Linked DNA regions of Homo sapiens: region 1 is linked to region 2. Evidence: fine-mapped expression QTL. A gene starts in region 2. The other region holds a variant in brackets. All regions are shown on one strand. Distances are from middle to middle.

Region 1 (2,911 bases), 27 kb before region 2:
TGAACCGGGAGGCAGAGGCTGCAATGAGCCAAGATTGTGCCACTGCACTCCAGACTGGGCGACAAAGTCAGACCCTGTCTCAGAAAAAAAAAAAAAAGAATTAGCCAGGTGTAGTGATGTGCATCTGTAGTCCCAGCTACTCAGGAGGCTAAGGCATGAGAATCACTTGAACCCAGGAGAAAGAGGTTGCAGTAAGGTGAGATCGTGCCACTGCACTCCAGCCTGGGCAACAGAGTGAGACTGCTTCAAAAAGAAAAAAAAAAAAGAAAATAATCAACACATAACGTGTAATTCTAACTTTCTGAAACTGTCTCCAAAGCTATAGCTGAGGGGATTTGGGAGCACAAGTTTAATCAAGGTGAAGAGAAAGCAAGGAAAAAACTGGATAATTTTTTATGAGACAGAACTTTGATACCTAACTGACATATCAGAATAGAGAAAGCCAGGAACGTTCTCAGAGTCCCGATCTTTACTTGGCTGTATATTTTCTAGTTCCATTAAACCAGGTCCATTTTTTTCTCAACCCCTTTTAGAAAAGCTCAGACCAACAGTGTTTTCCCCCAAGTCTTCATTTCCTATTTCCTCATTAAAGGACCAGACTAGATATCATACTTCCAAGAAAGCCAAAGTGTATTTATTGCATTGATGAAGACTAATAAATAAAACACTGGATATAAGAAATGTTCTGTTGGCCGGGCACAGTGGCTCACGCCTGTAATCCCAACACTTTGGGAGGTCGAGGCGGGCAGATCACGAGGTCAAGAGATTGAGACCATCCTGGCCAACATGGTGAAACCCCGTCTCTACTAAAAATACAAAAATTAGCTGGGCGTGGTGGTGTGCGCGCCTGTAGTCCCAGCTACTCAGGAGGCTGAGGCAGGAGAATCAGTTGAACCCAGGAGGGAGGCAGAGGTTGCAGTGAGCAGAGGTCATGCCACTGCACTCTAGCCTGGTGATAGAGTGGGACTCCATCTCACAAAAAAAAAAGAAGAGAAGAAAGAAATGTCCTATTGGTACACAGAATATTAATCATTTTTACAGTGAAAGTTTTAAAAATCTTTTCAATTTAAAAACCCCTGACACTCAGTTTTGCTGTCTCTTTTGATTATTCCTCAAAACTATATTTTACTATCTCTTTAAAAGTCACATTAAAATCCAGCTCTAACACAGCTCTTAGTATACTAATTCAGATAGATTTATAGAATTTGGAAGGGATACTATAGCTCTTCTAATCCACTCCTTCAGCTGCTCTAACAAGCAAGGAATCTTTCCCATTAGAGGTGGATGCTGTAAGAGCCTCAGTTAAACCTCATTTACTCCGCTGTATATGCATGTCTTGCCACA[T/C]GATACAATCCTTGAGAGCACTGGGGACATATCCTGGCCATCTTTCCAGGTCTGTTCTGATGGCCAAGATTTAAGAGAAACCTAGTAAATGCTCACTGAACTGAGCTGGATAAATGGATTCTGCTGTGACTCTTTTTATAAAACAATACTATTTATCTCTCTCCTTTCTGTATTTCCGTTTTACCTTCTCAGCTCAGACTCCCTTACATCCCAGGAGACAGCAGGTTCTATCACCTCAAGGAGAAATGCGAATAATAAAATTGCTACTCACGGGAGGACATCAGGATGGTTACCAATGAGTTTGCTCATCGACACACATAGCCGTTCATGCAGATCATGGTTGATTTGGCCTCCAGCTTTAATGGCTTCGGCATTCCTTTCCAGCAAATCCAAAAGGAGAGGGCGAAGCTGGCGACCAACCAGCACAGTACAGTCCTTATCCAAAAGCAACTGTGCTAAGGTACTCAGGACACACTGGCGATCTTGAGGTGTCCACACCTGAGAAAGGCAAAACAAAACATCTTTCACTTTTTTTTTTTTTTTGAGACACAGTCTCGCTCTGTCGCCCAGGAGCAAGTGCAGTGGTGCAATCTCAGCTCACTGCAAGCTCCACCTCCCGGGTTCATGCCATTCTCCTGCCCGAGCCGCCCAAGTAGCTGGGACTACAGGCGCCCGCCACCATACCCGGCTAATTTTTTATATTTTTAGTAGAGACGGGGTTTCACCATGTTAGCCAGGATGGTCTCGATCTCCTGACCTCGTGATCCGCCCGCCTCAGCCTCCCAAAGTGCTGAGATTACAGGCGTGAGCCACCGCGCCCGGCCTTTTCTTTTCTTTTCTTTTTTTTTTTTTTTTTTTTTTTGGAGACAGAGTCCTGCTCCATCTCCCAGGCTGGAGTGCAGTGGCACGATTTTGGCTCACTGCAACATCCCAGGTTCAAGCGATTCTCATGCCTCAGCCTCCCATGAGTAGCTGGGATTACAGGCACCCACCACCACACCAGGCTAATTTTTGTTTTGATTTGTTTTGTTTTAGTAGAGACAGGGTTTCACCATGTTGGCTAGGCTGGTCTCGAACTCCTGGCCAGAGGTGATCCAACAGCCTCAGCCTCACAAAGTGCTGGGATTACAGGCGTGAGCCACCATGCCTGGCCCAAAATATTTATGTAAATAATATTCATTTGCACTGCTGTAGAAAAGCAGAGACGAGTCCTGGGTTGGAACTAAAATGTCCAATTTCCAGACTTCATAAGTGAGATTCTATTATAAAATATCGTGGAAATTTTTTGCAATGGAGGATCAGAGTTAATTTAATATAAAGGCTGTTACAAATAAGTTTCAGTACACTGGAGTTTGAGGTACAGGGACTAATACCTGGATTCCATTTAAAAGCTACACGACTTATCTGAAAAATAATCTATGTGCTGGGGTTTCAACAATCTCCAGGGAATTCAAAACCCCAAAATTCCCCCAGCTCCTTTAACTCTTGAAGAAAAAAATGAATTCTGCAGTTAGTAGACAAAACTTCCAACTCTTCAGGAAAGGACAGAGGTAAAAAATTAATTCCT
Region 2 (2,911 bases):
CGGGCGTGGGTGGCTCACGCCTTTAATCCCAGCACTTTGGGAGGCCAAGCTGGGCAGATCACCTGAGGACAGGAGTTCAAGACCAGCCTGGTCAACATGGCGAAACCCTGTCTCTACTAAAAATACAAAAATTAGGTTGGCGTGGTAACACATGCCTGCAATCCCAGCTACTCGGGAGACTGAGGCAGGAGAATCACTTGAACCCCGGAGGCGGAGGTTGTAGTGGGTCGAGATCGCGCCATTGCACTCCAGCCTGGGCAACAAGAGTGAAACTCCATCTCAGAAACAAAACGAAACAAAACAGCCAGGGGTGGTGGTCGCTCGCGTCTATGGTCCCAGCTACTCTGGAGGCAGAGGTGGGAGGATCTCTCGAGCCTTGGAGGTGGAGGTTGCAGGGAGCCGAAATCGCTCCACTGCGCTCCAGCCTGAGCGACAAAGCGATACCCTGTCTGAAAGCAAAAAGAAAAAAAAAAGCTAAGTGGACAAACGAGGAAATGGGTAGGGATGAATATAGGCAGACTATAAGTAGCCGAGGAAGGTGGCCTTATTTTCGCACCTATCAATGCTCAGGCTGAGCTCCTGAGGCTAGACCTACCGGCACCCCCCATTCCTACAGGTTCTATAAGGCAAGTCAGGTATTCCACCCTGTAAAAAGCTCTTCTCTCTCCTGCCCCGCTAGACTAGTATCCCCTCCTTAAGGCTCCCAACATCCGAAGCTAAGTTGTTTGTCTGCCTATCATCCAGGAACGCGTCTGAGGGCAGGGAACAAATTTATTCATCGTAATCGAGCCCAGCACTTTGTCTCGCACGCAGCTGACAGCAGAATTTTAAGATAAAGTATTAAATAAATGACAGACCTCTCAAGGCTTCCTGTCTTTCACTAAAAAGCTTCTCTCAGGCCACGCCCCTACCTCCACTCAGGTCAGCCCCTTCCTATTGAAGCCCCGCCCCATCGCCTTCCCCGCCACCTTACACCCCGCCCCTCTCTCTTAAAGCCCTAGGAAGATTACTGGAGTTTGGCGCCAACCGTGTTTTTTTTTTTCCCTTCCAAAGGCGGGAACTAGTTGTGGGCGCTGCGACGTGCTTTGCGTCTGATATGATTGGCCGTAGGCACTCAGTCCCGCCTCCATACCCTGATAGCGCTCTGGTATTGGTGGAGATGCCAGGGAGACCTCGGTGGGCAGAAAGGAACCGGGTTGTCTTGGGCCGGGCAGGGCGGGTAAGTTGTCGTAGGGGCCCGGTCCGTGAGGGACTGCTAAGGAAGAGGCTGCATGGCGCGGTAGTCCCCCGAGTGGAGGTCGGCTGCCCCTGGGAAACCAGAGAGTCGGAGGGAGTCCATCTGGAGCGGCCAAGTAGGTCGGGGAAGGGCCGCGCCTGACGTCTGGCCGCAGGTAGCCACGTTCCCTCCGCCCCCGGTGCAGCTTCAGGGCTTGCACCCTGCGTCCCTCTGTGGTCCTTCGAGAGGGTCTGGGCGGGGACTATGGGTGGGCGCGCCCAGGAATTGTCCCTTCGGCCTCTCGTCCTGCCCCTCCCCCCCACCATCCAGTCTCTCCTTGGAATATACTCTTAAAATCTTTCGGATGGAGTTCTTTGGAGAAATGGGTTTCCTGGAGTGTCAGGTGATCATTGATGTTGATTGTTTCTGAAATGTTTATTTAGGCATCAAACCAACATGCCTAAATAAGTTTTTCATTTCTACAGCGCCTAGATTCATTCCTAGCACATAGTAGGCCCTAACTCAGATGTGAATGTAGGATTCGTAGGAGCTGAGCATTTGTGCTTCAGGCATCAAGTTGTCTTTGACTCTTCGACTCTTCCTTGGTCTTTTTCCATTCTCCACACCTCCAGCAGCAAACCTTTCGCCTCTCCTCAAGGCCTTTCCCCCCCATCTCCCTCAGCGCCTCTTTGACTGGAGGGGGACAGAGGCTTTCATGGCAGGGATTCTCCCATCTCCCTTCCTATCCCCGCTATGCCCTCCAATTATCTTTTCCTGGCGTTCCGTTTTACAAGAGATGGCCTTCTTTCCAAAAACATTTATATTGTATTGAATATTCTTGATTTTGGCCATCTTGCTTTACAGACAGACCTGGGGTCTAATTTCAGCTCTGCCACTTACCAGGTGGTTGCCTTGTGCAAATTTCTTGATCGTCTGTGTTTTCCTCATCTGTAAAATGGGGAAAAGAATAATATGGACCTCATAGAACTCTGGGGAGGATTTAAACTAAGTGAATAATGTATTTAGATCATTTAGGTTAGTGCCTGGAACATAGTAAATGTGCCGTATATGATAGCTTTTGTTAGTATTTGCCCCTTACCTCTTCTTCTGGGGTCTTGCTGTATTAGCCTTTCCCATGAGTGTAAAAATACACTGTCTTCTCTGGCTTTTTCCTGTTTTTCTCTACAAATGCTTGTGTTTTTCTCTAAATTTTATTTTTTGTCTTTTAGCGTCTACATTAAGGACACATTCTCAGTTTCGTAATGATTTTTCTTTTTCTTTTTTCCTTTTTTTTTGAGACTATAGCCCAGGCTGGAGTGCAATGGCAAGATCTCGGCTTACTACAGGTTTGACCTCCTGTGCTCAAGCAATCCTCCCACCTCAGCCTTCCAAGTAGCTGGAACTACAGGTGTGCACCAGCATGCCTGGCTAATTTTTGTATTTTGTAGAGACTGGGTTTTGCCATGTTTCCCAGGCTGGTCTCGAACTCCTAGGCTCAAGTGATCAGACTGCCCTCAGCCTCCCAAAGTACTGGGATTACAAGTGTGAGCCACCCCGCCCAGCCACATTCTCTCAATTTTAAAAAGAAAACTTCCTTCAGACTGCCTATAACGAAAGGCTATGTGATCCTTCTCCTGTCTACTTTGCTTTCACATCTGAATCCATTGGAATTGTCCCAGAAAAGATTATGCATGA

What was found.
Region 1: its variant is fine-mapped to the expression of CASP8AP2 in whole blood (TOPMed, PIP above 0.99).

Annotation. Positions count from the first base shown.
Region 1 is chr6:89,801,713-89,804,623 of GRCh38, forward strand. MDN1 (midasin AAA ATPase 1) reads right to left here. Exons shown (of 102, transcript NM_014611.3): 2 at 1,616-1,842. Among named protein-coding and RNA genes, the nearest start is that of MDN1, 17 kb to the right of the region's middle. RefSeq lists an enhancer at 1-244. The variant T/C (reference allele first, on the strand shown) is at 1,345.
Region 2 is chr6:89,828,716-89,831,626 of GRCh38, forward strand. CASP8AP2 (caspase 8 associated protein 2) reads left to right here and starts at 1,165. Exons shown (of 10, transcript NM_012115.4): 1 at 1,165-1,391. RefSeq lists a silencer at 515-564 and an enhancer at 665-854.